Linked DNA regions of Homo sapiens: region 2 is linked to region 1. The links come from fine-mapping of genetic effects on gene expression. Tissue or cell type: T cells. Region 1 holds a variant in brackets; the other region holds the start of a gene. All regions are shown on one strand. Distances are from middle to middle.

Region 1 (8,108 bases):
TAAGTTAACATTATCATAACCAGTAGGAAACCCTGCTCTCTGAAAGTTAATTAAAATAGTGGAGTGGGGACTTCCATTTTCTTTAAATAGATGACAGTCTGAATTTCCAAGTCAGCCCTTAAACCGCAAAGATAACAGGCTACTTGGGTAACACAACACAGACAAACAGAGAATTCCTGAAAGCTGACACGGCAAGGAGGCAAGGCTTTATCACCCAGCTGCCAGCCACAAATGAGTTTGTAAAAGCAAAGCTTTTTTTTTTTTTTTTTTGAGACAGAGTTTCACTCTCGTTGCCCAGGCTGGAGTGCAGTAGTGCGATCTCGGCTCACTGCACCCTCTGCTATCCGGGTTCAAGCGATTCTCCTGCCTCAGCCTCCCGAGTAACTGGGATTACATGTGCCCACCACCACGCCCGGCTAATTTTTGTATTTTTTAGTAGAGACGGGGTTTCACCATGTTGGCCAGGCTGGTGTTGAACTCCTGACCTCATGATCCACCATCCTCGGCCTCCCAAAGTGCTGGGATTACAGATTACAGGTGAGCAACGAGCCCGGCCTTTTTTTTTTTTTCCTAAGATTTTGAGAGGTGAAAATTACCAAGTAACTATGTGATTAGGGTGCTTCTACTTGTAAGAAAAAGTGAGTGACTACATTTTGCAATTCAGTGCTGGGTCAGAATGAGAGTATATTAACACCCAGCTTCAAGTGGGAAGGGAATATTCACAAGTTACAGCTGTGCTACAAAAAAAAAAAAAAAAAAAAAAAAAAAAAAAAAAAAAAAAAAAAATGCAGCTATTTCCCATGGGAAAGGAATTTCTTTGGATGCCCTGGAGAGTAGTTAAGGAAGGGAGGATAAAAACACTTTCAAGAAATTTGCCCCTTAGTTATTACACCTCTGGAGCACTTAAAGCTCTAAAATCTAATTTCATTTCCAGAGTCTTTACCGTCAATGATAATAATAAAAATATCATCTCCCATGGGCAAGGCGCTATGCTGAGTACCCACTGGAATCAATGGGAAGGCTGTAGTGAAGAGAGGAGTTTTGGAATTTAACTGCCTGGGTTCAAATCCAGGCCCAGCCACTTGTTATGTACCTGTGGGTAGTTTGCCTAGCCTCTCTGGAACCATTTCTTTGTCTCAATAAACAATATTTGCCATCGTTACTATTATTAATATGTTTAATCCTCACAGCAACCCTTTGATGGCACTGTCATTGTCCCCATGTTATAGATAGGAAAACTGAGATTTGTAGCTGTTAAGTAGCTTACTATTTAGGTCACATAGCTAGAGAGTGGCAAATTAGGGCTCCAAACCACATGCATTTTACCACTGTTAGAGGTTTCCTTTTTTGTTTTTTGGGGGTTTTTTTGTTTTGTTTTGTTTTGTTTTGTTTTTTTGAGATGGATCCTCGCTGTGTTGCCCAGGCTGGAGTGCAGTGGTGCAATCGCAGCTCACTGCAAACTCCGCCTCCTGGGTTCAAGCAATTCTTCTTGAAATTAGCCACCATGCCTGGCTAATTTTTTAATTTTTAGTAGAGACGGGGTTTTACCTTGTTGGCCAGACTGGTCTCAAGCGCCTGAATCTCAGAAAATCTGTCAGCCTCGGCTTCCCAAGAGTGCTGGGATTACAGGTGTGAGCGACTGCACCCAACCAGTTTCTTTTTTTGTATCCCAACACAAATTTGTTAGAATCATTACCTTCCTGGCCAGCAGAATAAAGAAGGCTTACTTGACAGAAATGAAACGTTTTTGTCTTATTTCAGGTCGGGCCTTTGATGAATCAACAAAACACTTTTGTGAAAACTCTTGAGAAGTGATTTTCCTCTCTACAATACTTGGTTAAAAGTTAAACAAAGTTTCCCAAGTTCTCTTGGCTAAGTTTTCAATCTGCTCATGAGCGCTATGAATCTCCCAGAAGGGGACACATAAGCAGCATTTTCCACTCTTATTTCAGCCTCTTGCTGGACCACACACTCTACTCTATGAACCATAGAATCAGAGTAGGAGTCAGGCTTCTGCATTTCACAGCTTAAGTATTTTGCATTTCAAAACCCCTTGCATTTCACAGCTTAAAAAAACCTGATGCAACTAAATGAACACAAAAACCCTAAGTCCCACCTTAATACATCTTTAGACAGTTACTAACACCACATAGGATCAGTCCTATACAGGAAGTAACTCTCTTGACCCATTTGAGTTCTCAGTTTCTTTCTCCACTGGAGTGGACCAGGCCGTTACACCCATCATAGCTACTTGGTCCTGAAATGAAACTCAGCATACTTGGCCTCTTCAGGTAGCGGCTGGCTGAGACACAGGCATGCGTGGCATTCGGTAGGAATAGAAAGTAGCATGACATGAACTACTTCCACTTCTCAAAGTGCAAACCATCCAGAGTCTACAGGAGCTGTGAGACGACATTGTTGAGGGAGAATTCTACATTCCCCCGCTGATAAGCATTTCCAGGCCTTTTGGTTTGTTTCTGGAAACACACTAAGTGATAACATAACACATAACAATACAGTCTTCTTATCTGTGTTCAGATGGCTAATGCGGTTAATCCATTTTTTTGTGTGATCAGGAAAGACACATTGAATCACACATACAGGAAGAAGGATTAAAGAGTTGGGGCTTCAAGTTGACCATAAATAATTTTTCACTTGTCTAGTAGGAAGTTTCCCAGAAGAGAAACACATTTCTTTGACTTTCCATTCTTTTGTAGGAAAACATTATCTGCATTGATTGTTTTTCTTTTACGTGTTCTTTTTTTTTTTTTTTTTTTTTTTTGAGACAGAGTCTTGCTCTGTCGTCCAGGCTGGAGTGTGCAGTGGCGCTATCTTGGCTCACTGCAACCTCCGCCTCCCGGGTTCAAGCAATTCTCCTGCCTCAGCCTCCCAAGTAGCTGGGACTACAGGCACATGCCACCACGCCCGACTAATTTTTTGTATTTTTAGTAGAGATGGGTTTTCACCATGTTAGCCAGAATGGTCTCGATCTTCTGACCTTGGGTTCCACCCTCCTCGGCCTCCCAAAATTACAGGCATGAGCCATCATGCCTGGCCTATGTATCCTTTTTCTAACTCTAGATTTAAGAATAAATTTTTTTAA[A/G]TTGTAGTAAAATATACATAAAATTTATCATCTCAACCATTTTTAAGAATAGAGTTTGGTAGTGTTAAGTAATGTTTATGTTGGGTGTGTGTGTGTGTGTGTGTGTTTGAGACAGAGTCTTGCTCTGTCGCCCAGGCTGGAGTGCAAGTGGCATGATTTCGGCTCACTGCAACCTCCGCCTCTTGGGTTCAAGCGATTCTCCTGCCTCAGCCTCCTGAATAGCTGGGATTACAGGCACGCACCACCACACCTGGCTAATTTTTTGTATTTTTAGTAGAGACAAGGTTTCACCATGTTGGCCAGGCTGGTCTCGAACTCTTGAGGCAATCCACCCGCCTCAGCTTCCCAAAGTACTGGGATTACAGGCGTGAGCCACCACGCCTGGACGTGTTTATGTTGTACGGCCAATCTCCAGAACTTTTTCATCTTGGAAAAACAGAAACTCTGCACCCATTAAACAGCTCCCTATTCACTCCTCCCGCAGTCCATGGCCACCACCATTCTACTTTCTGTCTCTATGAATTTAACAGGAGAGAAATAAAATATTTTTATTTTAAATATTTGTAGATTTTCATGTTAACCTGCTTCCCAACCTAAGTCATTCTTATGGATGATATTTCTTCTACCCATTATTAAGAGAGTTAAAGGTTCAAAGTAGACATGATCGGAGTCCTCAGGGAGCTGGCTGACGTTTAGAAAAATCTTTCATCACATTTTCATTCTCATTAGAAATTCCTTAGACCTAAAAACAAATAGCTTGACAGTTGATCCCCATCAAGCATGCAGATGGGCAGAGTAATTGTCCCCTGTTACAAGTTAGGCCACAGACAAAAATGTAATGACAAAGGAATTCTAGCTGAGAGGACACTGCACTTCCCAGAACACAAGCAGGTTTCCTGCTACAGGATGCATCTTTGGTAGAATGCTGAGAAAATAAAAGGCTGACACCAATCCTGTGGATCAGTCATGATGTTGGAAAAGTGAGTTTCTAGGCTGAGCTTCCACTGGTTGCCAATAGACTCTGTCAAACCAAGCCCCAAACTGCTCACAACTCGGAACTTGGCAAGTTACTTTCAAAGTTCTTTTCCCAGGCAGTTTATTATAAGCCCTTAGAGTTGCCAGATTTAGCAAATAAAAATATAGGACGCCCAGTTAAATTGGAATTTCAGATGAACAACGAGCAATTTTTTAGTATAAGTATGTCCAATATATTAAATCTGCCAACTCTAACCCAGATCACCCCTTTAGGATTCTTCTCAATAGTAATAATCGACCACCAGCCTGGGCAGAGAGTGGTAGGAATAAAGTGTTTGGTAAAATCTTTGGTTTATTATGCTACCTTCAGAAAGGAAGGAACATTTTTGTTGTTGTTGTTTTGAGGCAGGATTTTTCTCTGTTATCCTGGCTGGAGTGCAGTGGCATGATCATGGATCACTGCAGATCACGTGCCCCCTGGGCATAAGTGACCTTCCCATCTCAGCCTCCCGAGTAGCTGGGACTACAGGTGTGTACCCCACGTCTGATTAATTTTTGTATTTTCCATAGAGATGAGATTTCACTGTGTTGCCTAGGCTGATCTCAAACTCCTGGGCTCAAGCAGTTTGCCCACCTCAGTCTCCCAAAGTGCCTGGATTACAGGCGTGAGCTACCACACCTGGCCAGGAAGGAACACATTTATTGAACATAGGCAAGTGCCTTCATTGCATTCTATTGTAATATACCCAAGAATCCTATGCAACAGGTCACTATTTGTATTTTTATAATATGGAAATGCAGGCTCACAAAGGTTAGTTTATCTAAGACCACAAAACTCCTAGGAACAGAGAGACCTGGGACTGAATGCAGTTCTAAAGGCCAAACCGTATTACTGCAAATCATAGGCCTAGAGCTGATTGGTTGGTTGGTATTTTTGATTTTTTCCTAGGTATGTACTGGCTGCCTGTGTACTAGCTCTAGTAAAATGATGGGCAGCTAGGTGATCTTTCTAAATCTCAGTTTCCTTATCTGTAAATTAGAGCACCAACATCTTGGGTGCCATGAAGACTAAATGAGTTTGTGTAAGTAAAATGCATCCTAGGCACTTGTCACACATAGCAAGTGCCTAGGATGGCCACCTTAAGAGCCCAAAGTGGATGGGCGCTGTGGCTCACGCCTGTAATCCTGGCACTTTAGGAGGCCAACGCCGGCCGATTGCCTGAGCTCAGGAGTTTGAGGCCAACCTGGGCAACATGGTGAAACCCTGTCTCTAGTAAAAATACAAAAAATGAGCCGAGCATGGTGGTGCGTGCCTGTAATCCCAGCTACTTAGGAGGCTGAGGCAGGAGAATCACTTGAACCCAGGAGGCAGAGGTTGCAGTCAGCCGAGATCGCGCCACTGCACTCTAGCCTGGATGACAGAGCGAGACTCTGTCTCAGTAAATGAGTACATAAATAAAAGCCCAAAGAATATCTTTTATCATCCTATGAAAGAGAAGCTGAGAGGTCTGAGGAAGCTGGGGACCAGAGATGGTGTAGAAATGCATGCTCGCACCTGAACCCCCATGAAGGCGCTAGAAATGCATGAAGCCTAGAAATGCATGCTCACACCTAAACCCCCATGAAGGCCTTCTTTGCATGCTCACACCTGTAGCCCTGTGAAGGAGCTTCTTAGGATGAAGGATGGGCCAACAACTTCCCACCTCTCACAGAAACAGTGGGAGGCATCCCTAGATTTGGCCAGAGGCCAGGAGAAAGGCTTATATAATTCTTTCAGTTCTCACTTTTCACTCTGTAAATAGCTGCAACCTGACTTGGTTTAAGGTCTGATCAAGAAAGGTTTAAATCAAGAAAGGTTTAAAGGTAGGGAGGAAATTCCAAAAATGAAAGACCCTGTGGCTTAGGAGGGGAGGAGAGCAAGGGCTGGCACAGCCAGCTGGGTGTTTCCTTTCCCGGCCCCTCCCTCCTCTTCCGTTCCTCCCTAGCTTTCCAATTCTCTCCTCTTCCTCCTCTTGTGCTCCGGCCTGCAGTTGTCCAGAGAACAAACCTCTGGTCCTTTAGATCTGTTGCCACCTACTGTGGGAACTTTGGTAAGTTTTCAAACTTCAGTGGGTCTTGTTTCTCTCATCTGTGCATTTAGGGGTTGGACCAAATGAATTCACCTCGCTTACCCGGCTAGGTGGAGCTGCTCTCTTTTAAGTTTAGTCTGGGTGGGTAGAAAGTGAAGAGGGCTCTTTCTTTTAGCTGTTATGCAGTTAGCTCAGTCTGTAATCAGTTTTTCGGAACTAACTTGCAATAATCAGGAGTGGCATTAGGCATTGAGTGAACTTGAGCTCTAGCTTTCTGCTTTTGCATATGATTGACTGTGAATGAAAGTGTCAGCTTGTTTCTTCTTTTCTTCATCCCATCCCAGGCCTTAGTATACCCTAACAGTAACAGAGATAACTCATCCAGGGTAGAGATCTTACTCTGAGCTTTTTGAATCAGTATAAAAAGTGGGGCTTCAGGAATACCTTGTGTGGTTTAAGGAGCTTTAATTGATATATTGGACTTCTCACCTGTAGCAGTTTGCAACTCCCTGTTTTAAGGTTCTGCCGAAAATGACTGGAGTCTGGTTTTGCAGCTCATGTAAAAGTGTTTTTCAAAAACCAAATTTGGGGCCGGGCACGGTGGCTCATGCATGTAATCCCAGCACTTTGGGAGGCCAAGGCGGGCGGATCATTTGAGGTCAGGAGTTCCAGACCAGCCTGGCCAACATGGTGAAACTCCATCTCTACTAAACATATAAAAATTACCCGGGCATCGTGGCAGGTGCCTATAGTCCCAGCTACTCAGGAGGCTGAGGCAGGAGGATCTGTTGAACCCAGGAGGCGGAGCTTGCAGTGAGCTGAGATTGTGCCACTGCACTCCAGCCTGGGCAACAGAGCGAGACTCCATCTCGGAAAAAAAAAAAAAAAACCAAAACAATAACAACAACAATAAAACCCTAAATTTGGTGTCCTCACTACTAAGGGACAACTAGGCTATGGTTTTTGTTTGGTTTGTTCTGGTTTGGTGTGGTTCAAGAAACACTGCTAACACATTAAGTCTTGTTATCTATGTTCAGATCCTTGATGTGGTTAATCCAGTTTGATCTAGTTTAAAAACGCAGACTGTCATCACCTAAGCAATACATATTTTGGTGGAATTAATCAGTGGCTACCATAATGATAAATGCTGAAGCCTCAAAGTTAAAATCTTTCCTCTGCTCCTTCCCTATTTCCTGTCCCCTCTTCCTAGAATCCTGGAGGAGTAAGGCAAAGTTGTTAAAGCACAGGTTTGGAGTCGTATTTGCTTTGTGAGTTTAAATTGCTTAATCTCCCTTAACTCTGTTTTCATATCCATGAAATAGGGACACTGATGTTAATAGCATAATATGCCTGTAGAGAAAGGGGTTAGCCCACTCTCTGCCACCTGGTAATACCCAGTGAAAGAGCTGTTGTCCCTTAGAAGTATTTCTTTTTTTTTTTCCTTTCTTTTTTTTAATTTGATATGGAGTCTCACTCTGTTGTCCAGGCTGGAGTACAGTGGCATGGTCTGGGCTCACTGCAACCTCCGCCTCCCAGGCTCAAGCGATTCTTCTGCGTCAGCCTCCTGAGTAGCTAGGATTACAGGCACCCACCACCACACCCAGCTGATTTTTGTATTTTTAGTAGAGACAGGGTTTCACCTCAAAGCCAGGCTGGTCTTGAACTCTTGACCTCAGGTGATCCACCCACCTCTGCCTCCCAAAGTGCTGGGATTACAGGCATGAGTCACTGCGCCTGGCCCTTTAGAAGTATTTCTTTTGGGGGATTAGATGACAGCACTCATGTTTTGTCACTGCTAGGTCAGGTCACTTGCTAGAGTCTCCTAAAACAAACCTGAGCTGTCCACCCAAAAGCTTTGCTCAGGCTCCCTGACCATCTCTACAATTTAAGGAGTTGATTACAGTTTCTTTCTTGAAAATATTATTATTATTATTATTATTATTATTATTATTATTATTATT
Region 2 (8,108 bases), 150 kb before region 1:
CCATACTTGGGTAGCACTTTTCTCCACTTCTGCACATCTGGGTTCAGTTGCCACCCACTGCAGTCCCTGGAGTGGAGGAAGTTGTATTTCCTTCCCTCTAAAATCACTCAGTCTTGACCTTCGAACTTCTTCTACAAAAGAGGAAAGCCATTTGGATAAGAAAAAAAGCATCAGTGTTTATGTCAGTAGAAATAAGATGTCTTCTGTCTTGCACCCAGCTTCTCTGAGTCCACGGGACAAGTTGCCTCTAGTGGGGAAGATCAAGCTCAAAAAGCTTTTTGGGAACTTGAAAGAGCAACAGAACTGCTCCCTGAAAACAAGTTGCCACAAACTTTCACCTTCAGCAAACAGAAAGTCATAGGAAAGCACATGTAGGTAACTAGTTGAAATTTAAAAACACATTTTATAATATGTACACAGGGACATAGAGAGTGGACTAAGAAGGCTTGGCACAGTGGCTCACGCCTGTAATCCCAGCACCTTGGGAGGCCGAGGGGGGAGGATCACGAGTTCAGGAGTTCGAGACCAGCTGGCCAACATGCTGAAACCCCATCTCTAGTAAAAATACAAAAATTAGCCTGGCGTGGTGTTGTGCACTTGTAATTCCAGCTACTCGGGAGGCTGAAGCAGGAGAATCACTTGAACCCGGGAGGCGGAGGTTGCAGTGAACTGAGATGGTGCCACTGCACTCCAGCCTGGGCGACAGAGGGAGACTACGTTTCAAAAAAAAAAAAAAAAAAAGTAGACTAAGAGACAATGGAGACTGGGGAGGGTCAGAGGGTGGGAGGGGATGAAGGATGAGAAATAACTTAATAGGTACAATGTACACTATTCTTGTGATGGCTACACTCAAAGCCCAGACTTCGCCACAATGCAATATATCCATATAACAACACTGCACTTATACTCACTAAATCTATCATTTTAAAAACCCACATTTTACTTATACTGTTTTATCTGACTACAAAAAACTGAAGCAATTCTTGATTCGGGGGGTTATGGTGATTAGTTTTCTTTGGATGCTTACCCTTCACCAGACACCGTGCTAAAGACCTTATACAGAATATTTTACTTAATTTTCCCCAAACTTTTTGTAGTGAATACTGATAATACATTGTACACATGAGGACATTGAGACTTTGTTGACTTAAGGAGCTTATATGGGGTCTCACGGGTCCTGAGGAGAGGAGATCTGAAGTTGGGTGGGTCTCTTTTAGAAGATTTAGCTCCTAATCACCATACTATCACTATTGTAGTTCTCTAATTTTAGCATGAGTCGGAATCCTCCAGAGGCCAACTGAAAGCTCTGATCGCTGATCTCACCCCCCAACAATTTCTGATTCCAGGGCTGCCTGAGAGCTTGCATCTCTAGCAAATTCCCAGGTGATGCTAAAGCTGCTGGCCCAGTGACCACACTTTGAGAGCCCCTATTATACTACATCCTATCTTCTAAAAAATTGCCCTGACTTTGGAAACCTTGAATGAAAATGATGGAATTTGAAAGTGACTGCTGACATTAGACCTACGCACAGATAGCTAACAGCCAGAGTGTTTCTAGAGCCTCTCTTCTGAGAGGATGGTGTCATGAGACAGAGGTAATTGACCTGTTGTAGGTTTTATTCTGGTATTCCCTTGGCTGCCTGACATTTCCGAGAACACAGTCGAACTGCATCGTTTAAAAAAAAAAAGTACCACCACCATTTGCTCGTACTAATAGGGCATTTTTGAAGTTCAGTAGTTTTCCATTCAGCATGATGACAGTTCTTTTTCAAGCTAAGTTCATTTTCTTTTGATTCAGTAAAATCTATTATATTCAGATTCATCGTTACCATCATCTTGAAAAAAAAACCATCAATACTAATACTGATGGCACATAGAGAAGACTTATTGTGAAGAAAGGTTTGCAAATCTTGGACCAAGTCTTGTGTCCTATTAACTAATTCAACAAAAACTCTTGGGCAATTTTATTAACGAAAGAAATCTCATTTAAAAGTTTTCTGATTACAGTCACTGAAAACAACAGGCACTTTGAGGACAGATTTTGTGTTCTTCGTCTTTTGACTGATTGAGTTTCACCTGAATTAAGATTATAAAAGCACATTTGATACCTGAAATCAAGCTGATTTACTTGTCGATAATCTGTTCTGGAGTCTTCTGGGCTAGTTCAGGAGAAAAGCTTTGGTGCCTTACCTTTCCTTTTGGTGCCACTTAATAGCATAGATAACAACCCAGATGTGAAACAGCCAAGAAAATACAGACAATTGACTTACAGATGGATTCAGGAAAAAACTCCATCCTGAAATTTGCTACAGCACTTTTGCTATGAGAAATCTTCATACATTCTAAGGGAAAATGGAGGCTGGGCACAATGGGTCATGTCTGTAACGCTAGCACTTTGGGAGGCTGAGGCTGGAAGATTGCTTGAGCCCAGGCATTTGAAACCAGCCTGGGCGACATAGTGAGACCCCATCTCTACAAAAAAAATAATGATAATAAACTTAGCACCTGTAGTCCCCGTGGCTGAGGTGGGAAGATGGATCACTTCATCCCAGGAGTTCAAGGCAGCTGTGAGCTATGATTGAGTCACTGCTCTCCAGCCTGGGCAACAGACCTTGTCTCAAAAATAAATAAAGGAAGACAGAGACTGGTGGTAGGCGAGACTCCTTGAGCTCCCTTTTCCAAATGTTTCCAACAATCAGCATCAATTCCCGAGGGAAAACTTTAATAAATAAATAAATAAGATTAATTATCTAGTGACTTCATGAGTGGTGGAACAGTTTCCTTTGGTTTTGAGGGGAGAATAAACTACCCATGCAGGTTGGTGCTTGCAGGTGAGGTTAGACATGTCCAGAGGCTGAATTTTCCAGAACTAAACCACCGATTCTCTTATGGGCTTCTGTTTCCCAGCACTAGTAACGGCAAGCTATTTACAAGGGACCAAGAACTCTGTTTTTCTCCCTGACTGCTGCATTGGTATTAGCAGCATCTTGGTGTGAGGAAACCTGCCTTCCTGCTGGCAACCACAGGAGGCTGTCATTTTCTCTGAGACCCTCAAGTTAGGAGCAAAGGCAGGTTCTAGGGCCGCCTGTTGCTTTGAGACTGTTGCCTTCATCTCCTGCTTCCAGCAGAACCAAGGAAACATTCGTGGCTATTCCCCCAGGAGTAGGGTCCAAAGGGATGCCTTGGAGATTTTTTTTTTTCTCTCTCTCTCTTCTGCATCTGTGGCTGCCCAGAGGTGTTTTATCAGTGTGAACAGAGCAAGATGAGTAAGGTGTTCCCCGAGGCAGATTAGGAGACCACTCGTCCGGTGTGGGGGGTGTGTGTCTGTGTGTGTGTGTGTTCGCGCGCGCGCAAGACGTGGAAGCCAAGTGTGCTGAAATGCAGCTCCCCTCTCTGCCTGCAAAGAGTTGCTCCGCTTCCGTCCCTGCCCCGCGCCCTGGGGAAGCGCCAGGGGGAGTCCTCGCCGGCCAGGGCTTCCCGTGCCCCGGGAGCATCGAGGGCCAGCTTGGTGGAGCTTAGCACAGCTTGCTCGGCGCTGCGAGCGGGCGGGGGTGGACACTGGGCTTCTGTGTGCCAGTCGCAGCCGTTGGCTGGCGGGCACCCAATCCCAGGGCATGCCGCCGGAGCCTGGCCAGGACGCACGGTGAAAGACGAGTTTGGTGGCAGGCTTGACCCCCCGGCTGCCAGCAGAAGCCGGCGTCGGGAGCCCAGGCGGGCAGGCCGCTGGGGTCGGGGCTGCACGTACGAGAGCCGGGACGCCCGGGTTCAGAGCGAAGGAGGAGGCATGGCTTCGGTGTTCATGTGTGGCGTGGAGGACCTGCTGTTCAGCGGCAGCCGCTTCGTATGGAACTTGACCGTGTCCACGCTGCGGAGATGGTACACGGAGAGGCTGCGGGCTTGCCACCAGGTGCTGCGGACGTGGTGCGGGCTGCAGGACGTGTACCAGGTGAGCTGGAGCGCGCGGCACCCGAGGGCCCCAGCAGGATGCCGGGCACTCGTGGGAAGCAGGCTCCACCTGTATGATTTTATTCCCCCCAGCTCTTCTTAAACTCCTAGCAGACTGCTTGGCCCTTGGGTCAAACGCTCAGCAGCTCTAGGTAATTATTGCTTGACAGAGCTTGTGAATTTTTCAAATCGGGCATGGGGGGCACTTGCGAGATAGTCCCAGCGTTTGCAGACATCTGTTACAGAGCAATGGTGTACTGGCGGGCGCTTGACTAGGGAGGCTGTTGCTTTGCAACAGAGGGTCTTCAGAAAGCCACTTAGACATTCAAATGAGTCCTTCTTTTTAATTTCATTGGGGGTGGGAGTGGCTGCTTCTGAAGCAACGGTTTCACACCAATTTGCTGGCAGAGGGGGCCTTGGTGGATTTTTATCCTTCCGTTGGATTTTCAGTTTTCCATCAGGCAGCCCCAACTTGTAAGGCAGAGCCAGGAAAAGCTGATTCTGTGTCTACTGGCTTTTGGAAGGAAGGACAGCAAATTGTGAACACTTTGCAGGAGGATGACAGGCTGGGGAAGGGAGGGGTGGCCCGGCTACACGTTGGAATGCTCATGTTAGGATTTACTCCCTGTCACACAACACAGCCCCTTTATTTCTCTGCTCGGTCCCATCCTGCAGGCAAAAAATGCAGCAACTTTGCTCAACTAGGAGACCATTCATCCTCTCTGGTACTGCAGTTTGCCTGGATTTCTTTTTTTTTTTTTAGACAGTAATTTATGAATTTAAAAGTTCTGTGCTTTGGTTGTTAATATATTTGAGATTTTTAAAAATCTGCATTGTTTAGAAATATACTTGGTGTCTACTGTGGAAAGATAATATCATATTTTCTTTCCTGTGATGTGGAATAGCTTTGTTGCAGTTCCTGGATTTCCCCCCATTTGACCCTGTTCCTAATATGTCTAGAATTTATGTCTTATTATATTGTGTCTCATACATGATCAAGCACTTGATTTTGACAAACCATAATCTTCCATCAATCAGGCAAAATGAAAAGGCCAGCACCTAAGGTTAGCCTGTGGAAGTCTAAAGAGTCAGCGTCCCCTTGTCACCCTTGTTAAAATATGAGGAACATTTGAACTTGTGCTTTCACTGCTTCTGCTTTGTATAACATATCTGTGATATCTTGCATTTTGAAATGGAATCTGAAAGGCAGGTTGGGAACCAGGGCAGCATGTGGGAGTTTGAGAGTATTAGGGAATTGTGGATATATCCCATCTGGCCACATTACATAGCTCTCTGGCTTTTTGGAGCCAGAAGTGTGTCTGTCTTTCAAGCCTTTTTTTTCCTCTCTTGGGAAATCCCTGTTCAGTTTGGTCTGTAGAATAAGTGCCCCTTATGTAATTTTGTTTTTCCTTTTTAGTGTTTGAGAAACTTTCAAAAAGGGAACGCAAATATTGTAGCCAACCAGAGTGACTCTGTGCCTCACTCCCCAAGGATTCAGAGGATTTATGGCTTATCTGTAATACTGTTACTGACCAATTCAAAAATAAAGATTCCAGAAACCTGAGACCTTATGGATTCTTTATAAGGTTGACTGATAATTTTTATGCAGAATAGCAATTTGAGACACTGAGCTACTAAAATATATGTATTTTTTTCTTTTCTCTAAAATGGATGGTGACTGAGCCAATACCATATCATAATTGATAAGAACATCTAAAATAATGGTGGTAGTCAGGCAGTGTGCTGTGTGTCTATAATCCCAGCTACTCAGAAGGCTGAGGCAGGAAGATCCCTTGAGCCCAGGAGTTTGAGGCCAGCCCGGGCAACATAGTGAGACCCATCTCTTAAAAAAATAAAAAATAAAAAAAAAATAAGTCCCCACTCCTTATTTTTAACTTTAATCAATTGTACATTTCAAAATAACTAGAAGAGAATAATTTGAATGTTTCTAGCACGAAGAAAAGATAACGGTTGGGCACCATGGCTCATGCCTGTAATCCCAACATTTTGGGAGGCTGAAGTGAGAGGATCACTTGAGCCCAGGAGTTCAAGACCAGTCTGAGCAACATAGTGAGACCCCATCTCTACAAAAAATTTAAAAATCAGCCAGGTATAGCGTCATGAACCTGTGGTTCTCTCTGCTCAAGACGTTGAGGCAGGAGGATCACTTGAGCCCAGGAGTTCAATGCTGCAGTGAGCCATAATTGTCCCACTGCACTTCAGCCTAAGTGACAGAGGGAGACCTCCTCTAAAAAATTAATTAATTAAAATATTTAAAGCATTGGCTATCCCAATAACCCTGCTTTGATTATATGAATGTGTCACATTATCACATGTACCCCCGAACTATGTACATCTAATATGTATCAATGAAAATAAATAACAAAGGCTTTTATGAATACAGAATCAGAAGAAAATGATCTCTAAGTTTAATATTTCCTGTGCTTTTGCAAAAATAAGATTTTCAAAAATATTTTCAGCCTTTGAATATTCTTAATTGTGCAACATAATCCTTTGCAAAGGAAGATCATTTTTTAATGCTTTTCAAATATTAAGTGAAAAAGTAGTGACTTAATTGTGTAGAACTAAAAGACAGTAACTGCAAGTTAAATAGACAAGGGAGTTAATCCAGTCTTTGCCTATGTATGACCGTGGGTAAGTTAATCTTACTATACTTCAGCTTCATCATTTATAAAATGAGAAATTAATAGTACTAATCACAGAGATTGATAAAAGAATTAATTGACGTGAGATATTTAGCACGCTGCCTGGAGTTTAGAAAGCATCCAATAAATGTTATCTTTTCCATGAGTTAGGATTTTTTTTATTATAATAGAAAACCCAATTCAAACTTGCCTACAGAGTAAAAAGAAATGACTTTTGTCACAGCTGAAAAGTCTAGCAGTAGAATGAACTTTAGGTATTGTTTGATCAGGGTACCATGCTTTCAGACCTGGTCTTGCTGATGTGTTGGCTTTATCTTCAGCTGGTTTCTTCCCTCACAATAGCAGATAATCACAGCAGTTTCAGGCCTTATATCCACACATCCAGAAAGAAAGAATTTCTCATATCCTCCAACTATCAAAAAAAAAAAAAAAAAAGTCCCAGTTTACATGCTGGAACTCCAATTTAGGGTCTGTACCCACTCCTGATGCCATGCACTGATTGGCACAGAGTATGGGATGACAATTTATGCATTCTCAATGAGAGTGAAATGGCCCAAAGGAGGCAAAAATTGTTTTGGAGGAGGGGGGTGGGAAAAAAATTCACTACTTTTATTTATAAAGCACGAATATACATGCAATATATAAACAGAAATACAGCATATCTGTGACATTAAAATGGGAGGGATTGGGCTGGGTGCAGTGGCTCACACCTCTAATCCCAGCACTTTGGGAGGCCAAGGTGAGCAGATCACTTGAGGTCAGGAGTTCAAGACCAGCGTGGCCAACATGGCAAGACCCCGTCTCTACTAAAAATACAAAAAGTAGCTGAGTGTGGTGATTCATGCCTGTAATCCCAGCACTTTGGGAGGCTGAGGCGAGTGGATCACTTGAGCTTACGAGTTCGAGACCAGCCTGGCCAACATGGCAAAACGCCATCTCTACTAAAAATACAAAAATTAGCCAGGCATGGTGGCACATGCCTGTAATCCTAGCTACTCGGGAGGCTGAGGCATGAGAATCACTTAAACCTGGGAGATGGAGTTTGCAGTAAGCCATGATCACACCACTGCACTCCAACCTGGGCAACAGAGTGAGACTCTGTCTCAAAATAAATAAATAAAATGAAATAAAATAGGAGGGGTGACAAACAAACAAAAATCTAAAAAGGCTCCTTAAGCAGATAACAATGAATTAAAAGGTTAAGAAACACTGGATTGCATTGATTTGCTGAGGCTAGAGGGGAAGGGACCCATTTCTGAACCTAGGATTGAGGTTGGCCCTACTCAGACCACAGAGCTGCCAGGGAGGAAAGGCAAAATGTTTGGCTGAAATGCAACCAACAATGTTCACTGCATCATTAGAATATCAAATCTAGTGCTCTTTACATAAAAATATTAGCTATTTTTCAAGATAAGTACAAAGATTAATGCTCAAATACCTTTGTATGTATTTTGCCACAGGAATTTGAGTTAAGGGGCTTATCATAAGATTACCCCT

What was found. PIP is the estimated chance that this variant, and not a neighbour inherited with it, causes the effect.
Region 2: it holds the start of FRMD4B, and the variant in region 1 is fine-mapped to the expression of FRMD4B in T cells (TOPMed, PIP 0.98).

What each region holds. Positions count from the first base shown.
Region 1 is chr3:69,235,157-69,243,264 of GRCh38, reverse strand. The region is part of intron 7 of FRMD4B (FERM domain containing 4B); the gene reads left to right. Among named protein-coding and RNA genes, the nearest start is that of LMOD3, 120 kb to the right of the region's middle. RefSeq lists enhancers at 7,238-7,737, 7,738-8,108. The variant A/G (reference allele first, on the strand shown) is at 3,104.
Region 2 is chr3:69,381,666-69,389,773 of GRCh38, reverse strand. FRMD4B (FERM domain containing 4B) reads left to right here and starts at 3,686. Exons shown (of 23, transcript NM_015123.3): 1 at 3,686-3,946. The coding sequence starts at 3,785. RefSeq lists an enhancer at 3,609-4,219.